4 linked regions of the Homo sapiens genome follow. The protein of the gene in region 2 purifies or fractionates together with the protein of the main gene of each other region. This does not show direct contact. Each region holds a gene or a part of one and is shown on either strand. Other genes may lie near its edges.

What was found. The genes of interacting proteins can lie anywhere in the genome.
Region 1: the proteins of DRC8 (region 2) and MTHFSD purify together in Homo sapiens (affinity purification with mass spectrometry; one large-scale study listed by BioGRID and IntAct). This does not show direct contact.
Region 3: the proteins of DRC8 (region 2) and IQGAP2 purify together in Homo sapiens (affinity purification with mass spectrometry; one large-scale study listed by BioGRID and IntAct). This does not show direct contact.
Region 4: the proteins of DRC8 (region 2) and UBE3B purify together in Homo sapiens (affinity purification with mass spectrometry; one large-scale study listed by BioGRID and IntAct). This does not show direct contact.

Annotation. Positions count from the first base shown.
Region 1 is NC_000016.10:86,537,470-86,542,574, reverse strand, and holds part of MTHFSD (methenyltetrahydrofolate synthase domain-containing protein), read left to right. Parts: exon of another isoform or gene 1-294; coding exon of another isoform or gene 295-361; coding exon 362-474; intron 475-752; coding exon 753-878; intron 879-1,376; coding exon of another isoform or gene 1,377-1,385; exon of another isoform or gene 1,386-5,105.
Region 2 is NC_000001.11:245,076,754-245,081,858, forward strand, and holds part of DRC8 (dynein regulatory complex protein 8), read left to right. Parts: intron 1-5,105. UniProt on the Homo sapiens protein: Component of the nexin-dynein regulatory complex (N-DRC), a key regulator of ciliary/flagellar motility which maintains the alignment and integrity of the distal axoneme and regulates microtubule sliding in motile axonemes.
Region 3 is NC_000005.10:76,692,446-76,697,550, forward strand, and holds part of IQGAP2 (ras GTPase-activating-like protein IQGAP2), read left to right. Parts: intron 1-909; coding exon 910-997; intron 998-3,008; coding exon 3,009-3,221; intron 3,222-5,105. UniProt on the Homo sapiens protein: Binds to activated CDC42 and RAC1 but does not seem to stimulate their GTPase activity. Associates with calmodulin.
Region 4 is NC_000012.12:109,479,795-109,484,899, forward strand, and holds part of UBE3B (ubiquitin-protein ligase E3B), read left to right. Parts: intron 1-1,842; 5' UTR 1,843-1,948; intron 1,949-3,736; 5' UTR 3,737-3,757; coding exon 3,758-3,918; intron 3,919-4,066; coding exon 4,067-4,187; intron 4,188-5,105. UniProt on the Homo sapiens protein: E3 ubiquitin-protein ligase which accepts ubiquitin from an E2 ubiquitin-conjugating enzyme in the form of a thioester and then directly transfers the ubiquitin to targeted substrates.

The DNA.
Region 1 (5,105 bases), on a different chromosome or scaffold from region 2:
TTTGTTTTTAGTCTTTTTGAGAACTGCTCTTTTCATTCTTTTTAAGTATGAGTCTTGCTAACATAAAGCTGACATGAGTGTGATCTGTTTCCCTTTGTGACATGCTTGAACGGTCCAGTGTTCACGTCATTGTAGTTTCACCACCTGACATTGGCCGTGTTGTTATTCCTGTTGAATGCCCAAAAGTCCATCGTCAGTGTGGGCTGCTTGTGGGCATTTGGTGGGCATTTCTGTGAAAATTTCTATAGATTAGCTCGGGATATTGGGTTCAAGTTTCTTCTTCCACTGGACCTGATGGAAAATCCACTTCTCAGCGATGCCCCGGACCGCACAGCGATACTGATTCTCGGTTGTCTCTTAGGCTGGAGAATCGGGAAGGGAGAAGGCTACGCCGATCTGGAATATGCCATGATGGTATCCATGGGCGCCGTCAGCAAGGAGACGCCGGTGGTCACCATCGTCCACGACTGCCAGGTGCTCCTTATGAATGGGCTGAGCAGAGCCACTGCCATTCTCTTCTGAGGGAGCAGGGGGTGGGGAAGGAGACTCATCTGCTTCTGAACCATGCTGTGTGGCGAGTGGTGTGGATCAGCCAGGGCTGGACTTGCTAGTGGTACAGCGGCTAAGCCTTAGCCCCAGAGTGGATTTGGGGGTGCTTCTCTAGCCAGCCTCACGTTCCCACCGAGCGGGGCAGTGTGCACGACTGCAGTGGCATTCCCAGCAGCCCCTTTATCCCTCCTCTCTTCCCCCAGGTCGTGGACATCCCTGAAGAGCTTGTTGAGGAGCACGACATCACTGTGGACTACATCCTCACTCCAACCAGAGTCATCGCCACAGGCTGCAAGCGCCCAAAGCCAATGGGAATCACCTGGTTCAAGGTGGGTCACGGCAGTGGCCAGCTCTGGCCTGTAGCTTAGCGGCTCCTCCTCTTTTAAGTGTTTTCTGTCTGGCATGGGAGCTGTTGGCAATCCCAGCATGGCTGTATGTTAGAATCACCCAAGGAGCTTTTGAGCAATTTGGCTCCTGAATGACCATGTCCAGGCCCAGGCCTAAGAATCTGCGTATGGATCTCTGGGATTCGAAAAAGCAGCTAGGTTTAAAATCTGCCTCTGTAGATGGCAGAAATGGCCACATGGGCTGGGAGGGTGAATGCCTTGAAGCTTTACTTGCCCCCTGTTTTTCATTTTTAAGAGTTGTTTTCTGCCATCCCAGGCGCAGCAAGCTCTGCCTGGTGTTATCTCATTGGTCTTCCCTTTTTAAATCCAGATTTTTTTTTTTTTTTTACTGACGATCTGGATCTTCAAGCAGATCTAGCCTGAGTAGGAGGCAGTACCAAGCCTTTGTACATTTTATGCATTTGTGGTTTTTATCTCCAGATTAGGTAATGGCACAGGTTGCAAATTAGTCTGCAGTAGGAGTTTGACCCTGCAAATCAGCCTGTAGGTTATGATGCTGTCTCTGCTGGCAAACAGCCAGAATTACTGAGAAGACATTTGTGCTTCGTGTGGACAAAACTACTGGTCAAATAAGCATACGTGTCCACGTCTCCCATTCTTTAATCCCAAATCATTCACCGTTTGAATCCCTCCTTTGGGCATGGAAAATTAACAACATCACCTCTAAGGATGAACACAGAATACCTGCTGCTTTTGCCACAGCCCAGCCGGGACTTTCCCTGCAGGTGTCCTGGGCAGGCACTGCTGGGGACTCCCAGGTGTGCACTCCTCGGTTGGCCGCTGATGAACGCAGAGGGAACAGCCTTTGTAACCCAGAGTGTATGGGCGGCCCTCTAAGCGCACCAGGAGCACTGGGAAAGAAGGTGGTCACTGCTCTTCCAGGAAATGAAAATATCCCTTGATGTCTTTCTTAAGAGTCTTTCACTTGGGAACTCTGGTCCACAGCTTCCTTGTAAGTGGAAGCCAATGCACGAGACAGAGCATAAGGCTGGCGGCTCCTCAGAGCCGAGAACAGGGATGGTGGGAAGGTTGCACAAGGGCATTAGCCACAGCGAAGCTGCTGGCAGTCCCTCTAGGCCTGCGCGTCATAGAAGGGGCCCATTGCAGCCGTATTAGGGGGAGCCTGGACAGCCTCCTCTGGCAGAGAGCTAGGAACAGCCTGGTTACATTCTGAAGATTTTAACTAGAAAAGTAGCAACAAATGAAGTCATCGGACACGTTAGGTGAATATATCCTCCTACAGAAAAGCAAACCAAACTCAGCCAGGGTTCCTGAGGGTCAGCACTGTGGGGGAGGGAGGGCATCGGGGGCTTCGCTGTTTGTCGAGACCCTCTTCCAGGAAAGTCACTGTTTATGAGGCCTCAGCAAGAATCTCAGACTTTTCAAAGGCCATCTCTCATTTTGGGTCCTGTGTTCTCAGTTTCACCACCTGATAATCCCTTTGCATGGTCAGAGGAAATCAGTCACTTTCTACAGCTCCCAGTGTTTCTGTTTTAGTCTCGCTAGCCATGCAGCCAAAGTGAGTTTCATCAACATTTGTTGGGAGAAAAAAAAAATCTCTAAATTCCATTAAAGAGTTTGAATGTGGAAGGCGGACAGTTCAGTGCTAGGTTATAATATTGTTTCAAATTGACTTTGGCAAATATTTGGCATACCTCTCCATGATATTATAGTGATAGGTTTATAGGTTTATAGGTTTTAGAATCTAAGAATTTACCTCTTGGCTATCTTACTGGAATATCTGGGATGCATTATAGATCTCTTGATGAAGGATGTGAAGGAAGTACAAACTGCCTTTTCTTCACCCATTTTCAATACGCAAAGACAGTTCAGCATCTAATTCCCTGGCCTTTGTTCCACCTTTCCAGTAGTTGACGTCCTGCCCTGTCTTACAGACCAGTCTAATACACGCTCTGTTTGAGTGCAGTTACTGTAAACAGCGCATCTCCTTGATTGACCATCAACATCCGGTGGGCTCTTCTCAGCTTGTGTCTCATGATTTTAAAGAAAGGAAACCAGGTGGCCAGTGAGTGTATTGCTGAGTTTAGCAGTCAAGAGTTTCCCACTTCATAGCTCTATCTGTAACTTCCAACACACTCTCCAAGCCCTCTCGTTTGTCTTAGAAATAAAGGCAGTGCATGTAGAATGCCCAGGACGATGCTTGGGAGCATGGCCGCAGTCAACATCACTGTCGCAAATGCGAGGTAGGCTGTTAATAAAGTTGAGAAATCTTCCTGGACGCCATGCATGTTTCTTCTTTCTCTGTGCTGCTGGCAGAATTCTTAGGATGGTCCTTCTGGGTAGCTCACTGAGCCAAGATGGGGTCCTGCACGTGTCTCCCTATGGCCACGGGTTGTACCTCTCAGTGGAGGACAAGGAGAGAAAGGCACTGACCCCGGCTCTCCAGCCCTTTGGCTGCTCCATACCGCCTGTGACCATGCAGGTGCTTTGCAGAGACCCCCCACAAGTAGCCGTTGTTCTTCCTCCTCCATATCATCTTCAGCAAAGGAAGCCTGGTAGGGTTGGGTAAGGGGCTTAAAATGCATTCCAGCACTCTGCACCCTCATCAGAAACTTTCTGGCAGGAAGAGAGAGAGGTACAGAGACATTCCCCAGAAGGCTCTGCTTTTGCTCCTCCTTTCTAGAAGGCACATTGTCTGCTCTGTCCTCGTGTGCTCTTCTGTCTCTGGGGGCGATCGCCTCACCCACAGACCCGTGAAACTCAGGGTGACTTGGCCACATCCAAACCACAAGATGCATAGCCGCTGCTGCCCCATCTCCCAGTCACCGTACCCTGAAAACCCAGGACTCCCTGAACCCCTAGCTACACCAAGGATCTCTGCCAGGCTGGAGATGGTACCAGAGACCTGGGCCTGAAGCTGGAACGTGGTCCTGAACCTCTGGGCAGTTCGTCCAGCTCCATTGATCTTCTGATCCTTGGAGACAGTCGTGCGATGTCTCTCCCTGTGACAGCCGTGTGTCAGGTAGTCTGTAGTGGGCTGAGAGCCATTTGGCTGCCTCAGCTCTGTGCCGTAGCAAACCGAAAATGGCTGAAGCCCTGGACCCGCTAGTGTCGAGCAGCCCTGGCCACTGACCAGTGCCTGCCCTTGTCGGGAGTGAAATGCAGAGTCCCAGCCAGCTCCCAGGGCTGAGTGGTGTCCTATGAGTCACTGACAACAGAAGAACGGAACTTCCTGTTGAGACCCGTGGTCACCTGCTGGACCCGAGTGAGCACCTGGACAGCAGCAGCAGGTGAAGCCTCTGTGGGGAGACCCGGGTCTGCCACTGCCGCCGCCACCCTGGAAGCTCTGTTCTGCCCAAGCTGCACCTGGACCGTGGAGACCCACCACACCATTGTAGTGTTTCCCTAGAGCTGGCCTGAGCTGGGGGCAGGAATGATATATGTTAAGAATACCTTGGAGACAGAGAGGAATGGTAGGACATGGCTACAGACTCCAGAACCTCAACTGTGCCGAAGGCAAGGCCAGCCTGAGTGGGAGACTGAGGGCTCAGGAGAAGCCACTCGGGCACCCACAAGCCTGTGGTCCCCGTCACCAGACCCACAAACCAGAGGGCCTTTTGGCCTTTGCCCAGTGGAAGGACTGTCAGTCACACACATCTTCTCACCCGTCCTGTGCTCCTCACCATCAGCACATGGCTCCTGATTACCACGGGGTTGGCGAGGACACCATAGACCAAGGCCCGTGCATCTGACTTTCCTGGGTCAACTCATTTGCTCCTTAATGAGGGAAACTGGATTCTTCCAGAGCCACGCTCGTGCTTATACTCAAGGAAACAATTCTGTAGCTTTCAAAGCATGGCCCGCTCTTCCCCACACAGCCTGCTGGGGAGTGTGGTTCTCAGATGGCCACAGTATGCTGCATGATCTACAGATACCTCAAGAAAAAGGATTTGAGAACAGGGCTCCTCTGTGAGCAGCAGTCCTGGGACAGCAAAGCCCAATTTCAGATCCCGCATAAAACACAATTGTTCTCTGCAAATAATGCAGCTAACTGTGAACCAACCCCTACCCACAACTGGGCCAGTATGTTTAGAGAGCTGAGAGAGGCTTTCATTGAAAAAGAATTACTGTATTTGACCTGATAATTTACCTTCTAGGAATCAGTCCTAGAGAAATATGTAGAAATTC
Region 2 (5,105 bases):
TTGGAGACAGAATCTTGCTCTGGAGTGTAGTGGTGCGATCTTGGTTCACTGCACCCTCCATCTCCTGGGTTCAAGAGATCCTCCTGCCTCAGCCTCCCGAGTAGCTGGGACTACAGGTGCACACCACCATGTCCAGCTAATTTTTGTATTTTTAGTAGAGATGGGGTTTCGCCGTGTTGGCCAGGATGGTCTCGATCTCCTGACCTCGTGATCCGCCCACCTTAGCCTCCCAAAGTGCTGGGATTACAGGCGTGAAATACAGTTCTGAATTCTGAATATCTGCTCTGCTTGATGATAGTGATTCAAACTTGATCAGACTTCTGCTTGATGATAGTGATTCAAAGTCTTTGGCTAAAAATATGTCATATACACTTAGAATATATGTTAGTTATAATGTTTGCTAGAGCCGCTTTGATAGTGCACCACACAGAGTGGCTTAAACAATAGAAATTTATTGTCTCACAGTTCTAAAGGCTGAAAGTTTAAGATCAAGGTATCAGCATGATTAAACATCTACCCTATTCTTCTTGTTCTTTTTTATGACATTGGAATATACCATATTTGAAAAATGCATTTTAGAAAAACTAATGGAATCCAAATAAAGTTTGGAATTTAGTGACTAATAATATATTAATATTGATTCATTAGTTATGACAAGTGTACCATAATAATGTAAGAGTTAACAATAGAGGAATTGTATCACAAATGAAATTACAAATTATGTTACAAAGCAAAAGTAATCAAAACAGTGTGGTACTGGCACAAAAACAGTCATATAGACTATTGGAACAGAATAGAAAGCCTATAAATGAAGCCATGCATAAATGGCCAGCTAATCCTCAGCAAGAGTGCCAAGAATACACGATAGGGAAAGGATAGTGTCTTCAATGAATGATGATGGGAAAACTGTTATTTACATGGAGAAGAATGAAATTGGATCCGTATCTCACACCATACACAGAAATCAACTCAAGCTGGATTAAAGATTTAAATGTGAGACTTGGAGCCATAAAACTAGAAGAAAACATAGGGAAAATGCTCTTTGACATTGGTCTGGGCAATGATTTTTTGGATATGATACTAAGAGCACAGGCAACAAAAGCAAAAATAAACAAGTGGCACTACATCAAACTAAAAAGTTTCTGCATGCAAAAGAAACAAGGAGCAACCTATGGAATGGGAGAAAATGTTGCAAACCATACATTTGACAAGGGATTAATATTCCAATACATATAAGGAACTCAGACAACTCAATTGCAAAAACAAAAACGACCTAATTAAAAAAAACGGAAAAAAGGACCTGACATTTTTTCAAAGGTGATGTACAAATGTCCAACAGGTATATGAACATCATTGTTCATCAAGGAAATGCAAACCAAAACCACAATGGGATGTCACCTCACCCCTATTGTAATGGCTACTATCAAAAAGACAAAAGTGTTGGTGAGGGTGTGGAGAAAAAGGAACCTGTTGGTGGGAGTGTAAATTGGCACAGCCACTACGGAAAACAGTACGGGGGTTTCTCAAGAAACTAAAAATAGAATTACCATATCATCCAACAATCCCACTTATGGGTATAAGTCCCAAAAGAAATAAAATCAGAATCTCTAAGAGCTATCTGTATTGCCATGTTTATTGCAGCATTATTCACAGTAGCTAAGATATGGAAACAACGTGTCTATAAACAAATGAGTGGATAGTATATGTACACACACACACACGTATGTAATGGAATATTATTCAGCCTTAAAAAAGGAGGTCCTGCTATTTGCAACAACATGGATGAACTTGGAGGACATTATGCTAAGTGAAATAAGCCAGACACACAGAAAGACAAATACTGCATGATCTCTGTTACATTTTCAAAAGTCAAACTCATGGAAACAGAGAGTAGATGGGTAGTTAACCGGGGGTGGGGGTAGAGGAAATGGGAAAATGTTGGTCAAAGAGTACAAACTTTTAGTGATAAGAAAAACAATTTCTGATGTACAGTGTGGTAACTATGGTTAATAATTATTCTATACTTGAAATTTACTAAGAGAGTAGTTCTCAAGTATTCTCACCACACATACAAAAAAGGTAACTAGTGAGTCGGTGGATAAGTTAATTAGCCTGTGTGGTAATCATTCCACAAGGTATATGTATATCAAAACATCGTGTGGCACACCTTAAATATATGCAATTTTTATTTGTCCATCATACCTCAGTAAGACTGGAAAAAAATAGAGGAAACTGAGTGAGAGAGGTATATGGGAACTCTGTATTATATTTGGAACTTTTCTGTATATCTAAAACTATTCTAAAATCCAAAGGTTATTCAAATATAAAATCCTTTTATAATATAAAATAGTGTCTATATTAAACATTCCATGAATTCTGTACTTAGAATTATTGTATAATTTTATTGTTTTTAATGCCATTGCTTATACATGTTTTTGTACTCAAGAACAAATTGGATACGGCCTCTAGAGGACAGTGTTGGGTCATAGAAAGATTTTACAATTTCTGCCCAAGTTGAAGATGGTCATAATCATTTTTCTTCTTCTTTTCTAACCACAAGTCCTGTTTATTCGTTGTCCCTCTGTAAAAACAACAATAACAAAGAACACTTATGACCCCTCTGCTGTTCTGACTAGTTGGCTGTTTTGTTTTAACTTATTTTCGTATAATTTTGGTTCCACAAACATCTATTAGGCAAGAAAGATCTGCGGAGTTGGCACCATAATGTTCACATCCCTGAGGGTTTGTGAAAGTTGTGAGGGAACCCGGGGAAGCGATATGAGGCGTATATTATGTGTCATTTGTGAGTTCTTCCACGATGGAGACGGAATTATAGAGTTGAACTTCCTTTGGAAAAACAAACCACGGTTCGTAGCTTGATCAGGGTGCATGTAAGCTAAAGAGGGGTTTTGGTCTTTTAAAGGTTGAGACTGCCTGCTCTACAGTGGTTTGTTGGTGGTGGGAGGAAAGGAAAAAAACCATTGCTCTTGCTTCTGGAGCAAATTTCTGGAGTAATCAGAATAGCAACTCAACATTTTAATTTTAAAATTCCTCCTCCGGAGATAACCTCGTAGGATTGCCATTGTATTTGCCCGGGGCTCCTGAGGTGGGGAGTTGCAGAGTGCTGCTCAAGTGCGTCAGAGCCATATGAACATTCACCTGCAAAATGCTCGCCTTGGACTTAGAGGCAGCTGAAGACAATTGTTCATGAATGGATGGGCTCAGAAATTCTGAAACACACAATTCTGTCATTGAATGCGCTGAATTTTCTGCCGAGAGTGGAGTCTGAGGGTTCTACCTTGCTAGGTGTGAATCTAGTATAAACATTAAAAAATAGGAGTCATTTGGATGATGGTGTGTTCCACTTAGCAGCAACCTATAGTTTTTCGTTTGTTTGTTTTTGCTCGAAGAATAAATCTGTCCAAAGCTCATCTGCTGAATTGGGATCTTTGAGCCTTTTAATAGGAGTCTTGAGAGGGAGTGGAAAATGTACAGCTCCTTATAGATAGCCCGACATGAAAGTTAAGGTCAATGGTGTTTTGTTCAGCCACTCCATCCAAGTCGAACCCACGGGCAGGGATCTGTTTTGTTCTCATTTACTAGTGCTAAGTGCCAAACATTCTCTTTCTCAGGTATAGTCTTCTAATTTAGTGGTGGTGTGACAAAGTTCTATTTACCATATAGGTACTTAATACGTATTATGATGATTTAAGATGTAGTTGGTCCTTGAGATCGTGATTGGTCCCCTCAGCTGGTCCCTCACTCAGGATTCCTTATCTCAGGGAAAAGCATCACCTTATCCCAGTGGTATAAGTCAGAATCTTGGGAGTCATCCTTGAATCCTCTGTTTTTTCCATCCTTACTCATAATGAATGCAGGACCAGGTCCTACCAATTTCACTTCTTAAATATTTTTTGAAGCCATCCATTTCTCTCTCCATGGCCGCCACTCCAATCTAAGCCCTTGTCATATCTGCTTAGACTACTGAAGAAGCTGCCTCACCCTCAAGCAGTGTGCTCTTCCAAAACATGCATCTATGAGACCGTCACTGATTTCCCATTGTTCTCAGGCTAGCAACCTTATCACTGTCATGGACAAGAAGGCCCTGCCGTCGGGCCCCTGTCTCTCTTTCTAGCCTCATCTTGAAGCCTTCTCCCTGCTCCTTGTACTCCAGCCTCCTAGCCGCCAATGTGTCAGCAGAGAGTCTTCGCGTATTCAGTTTCCTCTAGGTGACTGTCTCTCCCCTGCTGTCTCTGTCTCATTACCTTCTACTCATACTCTCTAAATCAGCTGGAGTGTTATTTCCTCATGGATGACTTCCCTGGTCTCCTGGTCTAAGAAGTGTTCTTTATTTTTTTATTTTTATTTTATTTTATTATTTTATTTATTTTTTATTTTTTTATTTATCTATATATATATATTTTTTGAGACGGAGTCTCGCTCTGTCACGCAGGCTGGAATGCAGTGGCCTGATCTCGGCTCACTGCAAGCTCTGCCTCCTGGGTTCACGTGATTCTCCTGCCTCAGCCTCCTGAGTAGCTGGGACTACAGGCGCCCACCACCATGCCTGGCTAATTTTTTGTAGTTTTAGTAGAGACAGGGTTTCACCGTGTTAGCCAGGATGGTCTCCATCTGCTGACCTCGTGATCCACCCACCTCGGCCTCCCAAAGTTCTGGGATTACAGGCGTGAGCCATCGCACCCGGCAATTTTTTTATTTTTTATTTTTTTATTGAGATGGAGTCTCGCTCTGTTGCCCATACTGGAGTACAGTGGTGCGATCTCGGCTCACTGCAACCTCCATCTCCCGGGTTCAAGTGGTTCTCCTGCTTCAGCCTCCCGTGTAGCTTGGATTACAGGTGTGCGCCACTACGCCCATATAATTTTTGTATTTTTAGTAGAGACGGGGTTTCACCATGTTGGCCAAGCTGATCTTGAACTCCTGACCTCAAGTAATCTGCCTGCCTTGGCCTCCTCAAGTGCTGGGATTACAGGCGTGAGCCACCACGCCCGGCCGAGTGTTCTTTATTGGCTGTTCTTACAGACCCATGCTCCTTCCCCTCACTGTACTTACATCAGTTCACAGTGTCTTTGGTTGCTGTTTCT
Region 3 (5,105 bases), on a different chromosome or scaffold from region 2:
CTGGCCCTTTTTTTTCTTTTTAGAAGGAAAGCCTTTTCCAATAATACTGTTTCCACCTTATGTAAAAGTGAGCAAATTTGACCCTTTAGCTTTTATGTTAAAACCTTTGTACGTAATTACATAACATGATGCCTCCCTAGGAAGTGGTGGCCAATTGCCATAAAGAACACCTATGAGAGAACTACGGTTTTCGTACTTCCAGAAGAATTTTCCAGCTCTTTACTGTTTACTGAGAAGCTCTTCTATTCTCTTCCACCTGAAGACTGGAAGAAGACCTAACAAATAGGTTTCTTTGTTAACCCTATTTGTTAGTTGCTCAGGCCCTTGAACACCATCCTCCTCGCTGCTGTGTCAGCTGACAGACCAAGCCTCCACAGCCCACACTGAACGTTCGCTCCCACTGGTCTTCAGACTCTTTAATAGCTTTCTGATAGTAGGAAAGGTAACAGTTGGTCTGGCTCCTAAAGGCTTATGAGGTATTAAGCCAGCTCAGAAGTCTAGGTGCTATTAAAGTCAGGAAAGGAGAATATTAGATATCATTCCTGCACTCTGCAGTAGCAGGCCATATCAGCAGCACTTGCTCCCCCTGCCCATCAAAAAGTAGTCTCCGTCTAAAAAAGAAGGAAAAGTATTTAGAGAGGAAATCTTGTGATACACTTGTGCCCATGTTACTGACAGTATAATGCTACAACATCAAGCACAGAAAGCCCAGACTTTGATTATCAAGCATTCATAAACTTTCAGGAGCCTTATAGCAGACCTGGTGAATATCCGCAAGAATGTTTTATTTTAAGGTATTATCTTTGAAGCTTCAGTATTGTATGTGTTTGTGCACTCTCTTAGGAGAAACAGATTTTTGTGCATAAGGACTACAGTCTGAAAGTCTGTCTCTTTCTCTGGTTTGTTAAGGACCAAGAAGCTGATAATTGATGTGATCCGGAACCAGCCAGGGAACACATTGACAGAAATCTTAGAGACACCAGCAACTGCGCAACAGGTAATTTGACTTTAAGTGTAAAATAATAATAGACAGGTGTTGATTTTCTTCATAAATCTTTATGCCATATGTTTATTATCTCAGAGAAACTGTATCTGACATGGTCCGGAAGTAAGGAATTTTATCTATTACTGCAGTGGACTTAGTTCAGCCATATATAAACCTGTATGAAGTATCAATGGGAATGAAATAGAAAATACAGCACCAAATTCATGCCGAATATACTTTTGTCTTAACCTAGGATGATAGTTCTGGGTTTTTCAAAGCCCGGAAATGTTCATCATAATGGGCAAATAAGTCAGTTGAGAGAGTTCTAGCTGACAGGATATTGAAAAATACCTTTCACATTTTATGTATTTACTAACTTGAAACAAATAAGCGACTCACATGTTAAAGATGTTTTCCAAATGCTTCAGAAGCAAATGTTGAGTCCACTGAGTCAAAGCATCATTATGTTAGCGTAAGTGAGGTTTCACAACAATCTTGCATTTAGCTTTTTATTAACATCTTTGAAAATACGTCATTGTTCGTTCTAAAATAAATTCAAGGTTGTTATTTTAGTACCAATAATTGCCGCTCCCTAAACAAAAGTTAATTATTTAATTAACTATTTCTTAGCACAGCTACACATAATTTTCCTGGATCATTCTTAATTTAATTGATTGCCAAGGAATCCTTGTAATAGTTTTTAATTTAAAAAATATAAAAGGCTGGGCATGGTGGCTCATGTCTGTAATCCCAATACTTTGGAAGGCTGAGGTGTGTAGATCACTTGAGCCCAGGAGTTCAACACCAGCCTGGACAACACAGTGAGACCCCCATCTCTAATTTTTAAAAATTTTTAATAAAAAATGTAAAGCAAAACTTCAAATCACACGTTTGTTAATATGTGGGTATGTTTTAAACAATGTGGGTAAAATATTATACTAGGTTAGTATAAAAGACTTTTACTCCTTACTATTTTTCATTTTCCCCTAAATGTATCATGAATAAGTGACTAAGAACACAGACTTCTGAGATCAACTATACCTCTGCACCTCCTAGGTGTGTAACTCTGTGCACTTAGAAGCATTGCTGTGCCGCAGTTTCCTCAACTGTAAAATGGGTATAATAATAGTACCCAGCTCACAGGCAGGATTAAGTCAATTAAACATGTTAAGTGGGTACATCTGTATCTGGTGCACATTAAGTGCTCAACAATGTTGGCTGCTGCTTTTGTTATTTACTGCTAACCTGGTAATAATGTTCCAATAATATTGACCTACCTGTCCTGTGTCTAAGATTACTGTCCCTAACTAATAGTCGTTTCCTTAGACTTCATCTATTGGGTCAGTCAATTGTCTAGTACAATGAAATGGGAAGACCAATAGTCTCTTTTTGTTACTGTTTCCTTGAACAGACTATCCAAAGAGTATTCATTCATTCATTCATTTACTCATCGTTTGGGAATTTATAATGTGCTAGAATATTCTTATTCCCTTTGGCTCAAAGAAACTTTGCAAGTTTTTCAGAGTTGCTGGTTTGTGATTCCCTTATAAGAATAAAGCTCTCTGACTGCCTTACTGTTGGTTTAGTTTAGGACTCTCCATAAACATGGCTGATGTGTGAGAGTTTAGCTGGGTTCTGAACATTCAGGGTTCTCATAGCCACATTTCAATAGGTAATCTAGTTTTAGTTTCCTCAGCTAGCCTATCCAGGAATTGAAATCCTTCCATGTGGGGAACAAAGTAGCAGTTATCCATTAAAATATGTCCATTACTATAGTGATTTGTCACCTTGGCAATAAAGTAGCTATTGAGAATTTTTCCCAAATAAGGCTTGCTATCGAAAAGATGAAGTAATTCCTTTCAAAGACCTACTTCAAAACTCAGGAAGAACATGTTCTGGTTCTAGTCTCTGAACTTTGGCTGGAGGACTACTTTCATTTTGACATTAACTTGCATTGTGTAGCTTATGAACTGTGAAATTAGGGGATCAGAGAAAACTCAGCATCTTGATATTCTCTTTTCAGGAGGTAGACCATGCCACGGACATGGTGAGCCGTGCAATGATAGATTCCAGGACTCCAGAAGAAATGAAGCATAGCCAATCTATGATTGAAGATGCACAGCTGCCTCTTGAGCAGAAGAAGAGGAAAATCCAGAGGAATCTTCGGACGTTGGAACAGACTGGACACGTGTCATCCGAAAATAAATACCAAGACATTCTCAATGAGATTGCCAAGGTTTTTGGAAACAGTATTCTTTCTTCCTTCACTTAGCAGACATTTGCTAATCACCAGTCAAGTGCTGGGCACTCTGTGAGGTGGCATTAGGGATTCATGGTTGCATATGCTGTGGTTACTGCCCTCTTCAATGCTACAGATTTTTCAAGGTTTCAAAGCAGTTGATGACTTTTTTTTTTTTTTTTTTTTTTTGAGTTGGAGCCTCGCTCTGTTGCCCAGGCTGGAGTGCAGTGGCACAATCTCGACTCTCTGCAACTTCCGCCTCCCAGGTTCAAGCGATTCTCCTGCCTCAGCCTCCTGAGTAGCTGGGACTACAGGCACGCACCACCACGCCCAGCTAATTTTTGTATTTTTAGTAGAGACGGGGTTTCACCATGCTGGCCAGGCTGGTCTCGAAATCCTGACCCGGTGATCCACCGGGGCCTCCCAAGCAGTTGATGACTTTTAAGAGAAAACAATCACAACACTTTCATGTCATTAGGAGAGTTGAAACAGACCAGAAATAAATACTAAAAAATGTACTTGACAAGTTTGGTCTATACCTTTAAAGTTTTAAAAATAACACTATTGGAAGAGTTTTCTCCTGAGATGTTAGTTGTCATATAGCTCAGTTGCTCTTAGAACCTGCCACTGAGATGGAACTCTGTGTCCCTGATCATTTGTTTTTAAGCAATTTAGCCTAAATGCAGTTCAGACTTGAAGATTAGTTTCTGTTTTCTTATCCAATATTTTTACACTTGAGAAACTTCCTGAGCAAAGGATCTCAACTTAGTGCAATGAAACATCACAGGAAGTGGCTGAGATCTGTTTGTCAAGGATAAGGAAGTATATATTTGGGTTAGAAGGATATTTCATTCTTTTTATTCAAACATGCAAATTAATATGGATCTAGAGGTTAAAGGCAGTTAAATGACCAGAAAAAAAAAAAATTTCTCACCTTCTGGAAGGGAAATGCGCTCAGCTTTGTTCTTTGATAGAAAATTATGTTCAATTCTGGCAGTAGGCTTATTCCTTCTAGCCCAAGTGACTCAAGGGAAATAACATTTCTTTCTTTAGTTTGGGGGTAGAAATATTTCTATTTGGGAATATGGGGTAGATAAATATATGCTTTTGCTTTAAAAAAGAAAAAGGCTATCATGAAGACATGATATTCTATTTAATGAATATTCTATTATATGAAGAATTTCTATTTAATGAAGAATTCTATTTAATGAAGAATATTCTATTTAATGAAGAAATTTTACCTAAGGGCATGGGGAAGTTGTGGGGGAGTGTATGTGTATGTAGGTATTTCTTTGAATTCCTAGGGGAATGGTTTTTAACTTGTTTACAAAAGAAAAATAATATTAAACAGGCACCGTTTTCTTAAGTCAAACATTTTCATAACTTACCAATTAGAATTATGAAAAAAACTTATATCTGCAAGTTTAAATTTAGCATAGCTCTTGTAAGCTATAAGCAGCTTATGCAACTTAATGTTCTAGGAATTCTATTTAAATCCAAGTAATAGTTATCAATGTTGAATCTTTTCACTCAGTCTTGACAGCCCAGTGTTGTTTTTTCAAACCTTGGGAAATATTTGTCAGATGAAAAAGTTTGTTCTTTTCTTATTTTAAAAATGAATTTAACAATTAAATGTAAACTTTTTTAGTTTAAAGTACTATTCAAAGAGGAATATTCAAAATAGTCTGAAGAGGCTGGGCACAATGTCTCATGCCTATAATCCCAGCACTTCGGGAGGCCGAGGCGGGCAGATCACTTGAGGTCAGGAGTTCAAGACCAGCCTGACCAACATGGTGAAACCCTGTAACTACTAAAAATACAAAAATTAGCCAGGCATATTGGCACGGGCCTGCAGCCCCAGCTACTCAGGAGGCTGAGGCA
Region 4 (5,105 bases), on a different chromosome or scaffold from region 2:
GAGGGCCCCTGGGAGAAGTGAAAGTTTTAAGATCGTCTTACAGTGCTTAGGTACAGTTTGCATGCAACTTTGTTTTTCTTTTGGGAAGAGGCTCCCTCTTCCCCTTCTAATTCCATGGACCCTCTGCCATTGAGGCACTGTCTGCATGTCATGGAGGGAGCATATCATTGTGCTTGTGGCTTGGGCCCTGCTCTTTTGCAGTCCTGAGGAGCTTGAATCTGTTACTCACTCTAAACAACAGGGCCAGGAGTTCATAGCCCAAGGGACAGGACTGGTGAATCTTAGTGCATTTAAGATAGGAAAAAAGTTAATGGGTGAGAAATGTCAGACTGCCAGCATTATTTCCTACCCAGAGAACCTTAGTAACTGTCCAGGTGGGAGCCTCTGCTGAAGAGTTTTTTTTTTTTTTTAATCCTTGTGTCTATAAAAATAATACACCAGTTAGACTTCCTGACTATACACTCTACAATGTGCACTCAAGTACCTCCATAGGTACCTGATAAGCATCATCACATTTAGTCCTCATTATCAACCTCTAAGCCAATTAATAGATGAAGATGGAAAGACTCAGGGCCCAGTGTGGTGGCTCATACCTGTAATCCTAACATTTTGGGAGGCCAAGGCAGGAGGATCTCTTGAGCCCAGGAGTTTGAGACCACCAACCTGGGCAATATAGCGAGACCCCACCTCTACAAAAAATTTAAAAACTAGCCAGATGTGGTGGTATGTACCTGTGGTCCCAGCTACTTGAGAAGCTGAGGTGGGAGAATCGCTTGAGCCTGGGAGGTAGAAGCTGCAATGAACCATGATTGCACCACTGCACTCCAGCTTGGATGACAGAGCGAGACCCTGCCTTAAAAAAAAAAAAAAGACTTAGACATTCTCCCTATAGTATGTGGCAGAGCTAGGGACTGGCTCCAACTCTGTGTGACTCCCAAAGCCCGTGTGCCCCTCACTGTGCAGTGCTGCTTCACCATGTGCATGCTGTGGAAAATTTAGAAAATACAGACCAATTAAGAAAAATTTCCCGCAATTTCAGTACCTCAAAACAGCCACTGGTAACATGTTGGTATAGTTCATGCTAGTTTTGTATCTGTGTGTGTGTACATTTTTCTTTAGGTAATTGGGGTCTTATTGGTCCACAGGCAGCCCTTTATTCACTTCTAAGGCATAAACGTTTTTCCATTATCATTAAAAATGTCAAACACGCTGAGGCAGGAGAATGGCATGAACCCGGGAGGCGGAGCTTGCAGTGAGCCAATATCGCGCCACTGCACTCCAGCCTGGGCGACAGAGCAAGACTCCGTCTCAAAAAAAAAAAAAAAAATGTCAAACATGGCCGGGCACAGTGGCTCACACCTGTAACCCCAACTGAGATAGGGTATGGTGGCACACACCTGTAATCCCAGCTACTTGGGAGGCTGAAGCAGGAGAATCGCTTGAACCTGGGAGCAGAAGTTATAGTGAGCTGAAATTATGCCGCTGCACTCCAACCTCAGCGACAGAGTGAGACTATCTCAAAAAAAAAAAAAAGGAAAATGTCAAATATAATTTTCAGTAGCTCTTTAACATTCCATGACCTCTAAGTTATTTTGCTTCCCATCACAGCTGTAATTCAACAACAACTTTGGGATTTATTTTCAACATATTCCCTTTAAACTGTGAGGATTGAAGAGATACAGTATAACATTTAGATGAGACATTAAATAAAGAGGACCCAGTGGTGTTTTTAAAAAACCATTGGCATTGTAGTTACTACTTTTACTCAGTGAGGAAGATGTATGATACCACACCTATAAAATTTAACCCTAAGTCTGGATTTTTTTCTTCTGCTTCTGCCAGAAAAAATAACAAGCTTTTCTGAAGTGAGAAGCTGTTCTCAGCCACGAGTCCTGTGCAAGATCACTAATGATTACCTGGCATTTCTGCGACACAGGCAGGTCCTCAGGTGAGATCTCCAGACTTTACTGCTGGGGCAGGAAGCGTAAATGATTCAGAAGATGGCTACCGTTTCTCTCCAAGCCTTTTATAAGTTGGTGCAAAAGTAATTACGACTTAGTGTTTTTTTAAAAAAGTTGAAACCCACAATTACTTTTGTACCAACCTAATACCTTCCCTCCTGTGGTCAAGTGGGCTCTGTTAGTTTGTTTCAAGGATTACTGATGATGTTTGACAGATCACTGTTGAGAAGGGGTCACAGAGGTCCCTTGATATGTTCATGTGGTGGGAGGCTTGCACCAACTTTTTTTTGGTTATAAAAGGGTATTATTTTATTGTCCTTATTAATACTAATAATAGAGCACACTTATTAAATGCCTTTCAATAACACGTAATTAATTTAATACCTCTAGGAGATAATACTATTAAGTCCAATGTTTATTTTAATAATTTTTAAATTTCTTTGTATGGATGTAGGGGGTACAGGTTTCTTATATGCATATATTGTGTAATGGTGGAGTCTGGGCTTTTAGGGCACCCATCACCCGAATGGTGAACATTGTACCAATAAATAATTGTTCAATCCTTACCCCTGTCCCATCTCCCACCTTTTGGAGTCTCCATTATCTTATTCCACTCTGTTTGTCCATGTGGGCCCATTGTTTTGCTCCCACTTCTAAGTGAGGTCATGCAGTATTTGCCTTTCAGTTTCAGAGTTATTTCACTTAGGATAGATGGCCCCTAGTTCTAGCCATCCGACTTTTTACTCTGGATGATATTTTCATGTGGGTGCTACTTCAAGTAAAGTAGCCTGGTAGAGAGATTGTTTTCTGGAAGTCTGGATTTCTGAATAATTCATTTCAGTGTTTTTAACTGGGCTGATTGTGCATTTTGTATAGAATGGCAATGTCATCAAGCATCTAAAGAAATCATCTCAATATGGGAGCCTCCGGGGGTCAGTGCTGTGTGCTTTAGGCTGCTAGCAAAAGCTGTTCCTTTAGGAAAAAACAGTTACTGGTGATTTAGATAAAAACTTAGTATATAATTTAGAGCTGCTCTTCAGAAAAGCACCCGTTAGTGGACAGGACCAGTTCTACAGTAAAGTCTTCACTGGTCCTTGGCAGGATGGTAATTGTAAGGACAATGGAATAAGCTATACATAAAACCAAATATCTTCAATATAATGGACTGTCTTGCATTCTGAAGTGTGTACCTTTTGCTTTGTTAATGTTGAAATGGCCCTTTCTTTTTTGTGTGCTGTCACAAAGTATGCACTGGTAAATATTTGTTTAGTGAATGGATGAATACAATGATGATGACAGCAAATAATCATGTTGGATTTTTCTCTCGAGTCCTTACTTGGCAAAATAAAAGCTGACCTCTCAGTTTTGGTTTCCCAAATACTGTGGACTACTCCAGAAAATTCAAATATCTGGGAATCTTTGACCTATAGGATACCTGGTTTGAATTAGAGCTTTATGGGTGGGACTGATTCATTCTTTGTTCATTCGTAAAGCTGGGCCTGCCCTTATCCTATGCCAGGTGCTGTGCTCTTTCCCTTAAGAAGATGTGATTATTTAATATAGGATGTAGCATCCCTGGTCTTGGTGAGTTGCATGAAAGAGCCTATAGGAGGTAGGGACTTGTGCCGGAGAGCTGTTAGCGCTTTGGAGGGTGTTGACAGGTCCTGAGTATCTCTGCTGCCCAGGTCCCTGCCCACCCTCTGCTCTTGAGCCCCTTTCTGTGTGTGTTTTTCACACAACAATCTACAACACCCACTTGCCCATTTTCCTTGCAGGGTTTGTGCAAGTTTGCAAACATGTTCACCCTGTCTCAGACCTCGAGAGCATGGTTCATCGATAGAGCCCGTCAGGCACGAGAAGAAAGGCTTGTGCAGAAGGAACGGGAGCGGGCAGCTGTTGTGATCCAGGCCCATGTCCGGAGTTTTCTCTGTCGGAGTCGACTGCAGAGAGATATCAGGTAAGGGCTAGGATCTCCCTAGCACATGATTCTCTGGCTCCCAATTAATAGCAGATAAATGAGTTTTTTCTCATAAAGTGCTTGAAAAGCCTTCCAGGTGCTACAAGCTGTTAATTTAAAATGTCTTTTTTTGCACTTTCTTTTCTAGGAGAGAGATTGATGACTTTTTTAAAGCAGATGACCCTGAGTCCACTAAAAGAAGTGCACTTTGTATTTTCAAGATTGCCAGGAAACTGCTGTTCCTATTCAGAATCAAAGAGGATAATGAGGTAAAACGATAATAGCAAACATGTATAATACTTCCATATGTCAGATCTTTTATAATTATTGATATTAACTCAGTTCTTATAGCAGCTTTATGAGGTAATTACTGTCACCCTCACATCCTGTCCCTTTTGTTTTCTTGGGACCTGTTTTGGAGGGATTATGCCCAGTGCTTTTAGGAATCTTTTCACATTGACCATTATAAGCACAAGTTGAACTCAGATGCATGCAAGAGTCAGGAAGTTTAGGTAAATGAGTAAAAAAAACATATATGAGATAAAACATAATACAAAATACAAATCATATTAAACGGTAACTGACAGGCAGCAGTGGTAAGGACATCAAAAGGAGTAGCAGGGTCTGTGGCCTGCCCCATCCACGGGGAGCAGCTACTACACACCTCGGTGGTGGACTCATACTCTGATTTTTTTTTGAGATGAAGTCTCTCTCTGTCGCCAGGCTGGTGTGCAGTGGCGCAGTCTTGGCTCACTGCCAGTCTTCACCTCCCGGGTTCAAGCAGTTCTCCGGCCTCAGCCTCCCTAGTATCTGGAACTATAGGCTCGTGCCACCACGCCCAGCTAATTTTTGTATTTTTAGTAGAGATGGGGTTTCACCATGTTGGCCAGGATAGTCTCGATCTCTTAGCCTTGTGATCTGCCCGCCTCAGCCTCCCAGAGTGCTGGGATTACAGGCGTGAGCCACTGTACCCAGCCTCTGATTTTTTTTTTTTTTTTTTAAAGAGATGCCAAAGATCTGAGTTTTTATGCTCAATGTTCGTTCATTCATTCTTTCATATTCTGAGACAGGGTCTCACTGTCGCCCAGGCTGGAGTGCAGTAGCACTATCACAGCTCACTATAGTCTTGACCTCCCAAGTCTCAAACGATTCTTCTGCCTCAGCCTCCTCAGTAGCTGGGACTGCAG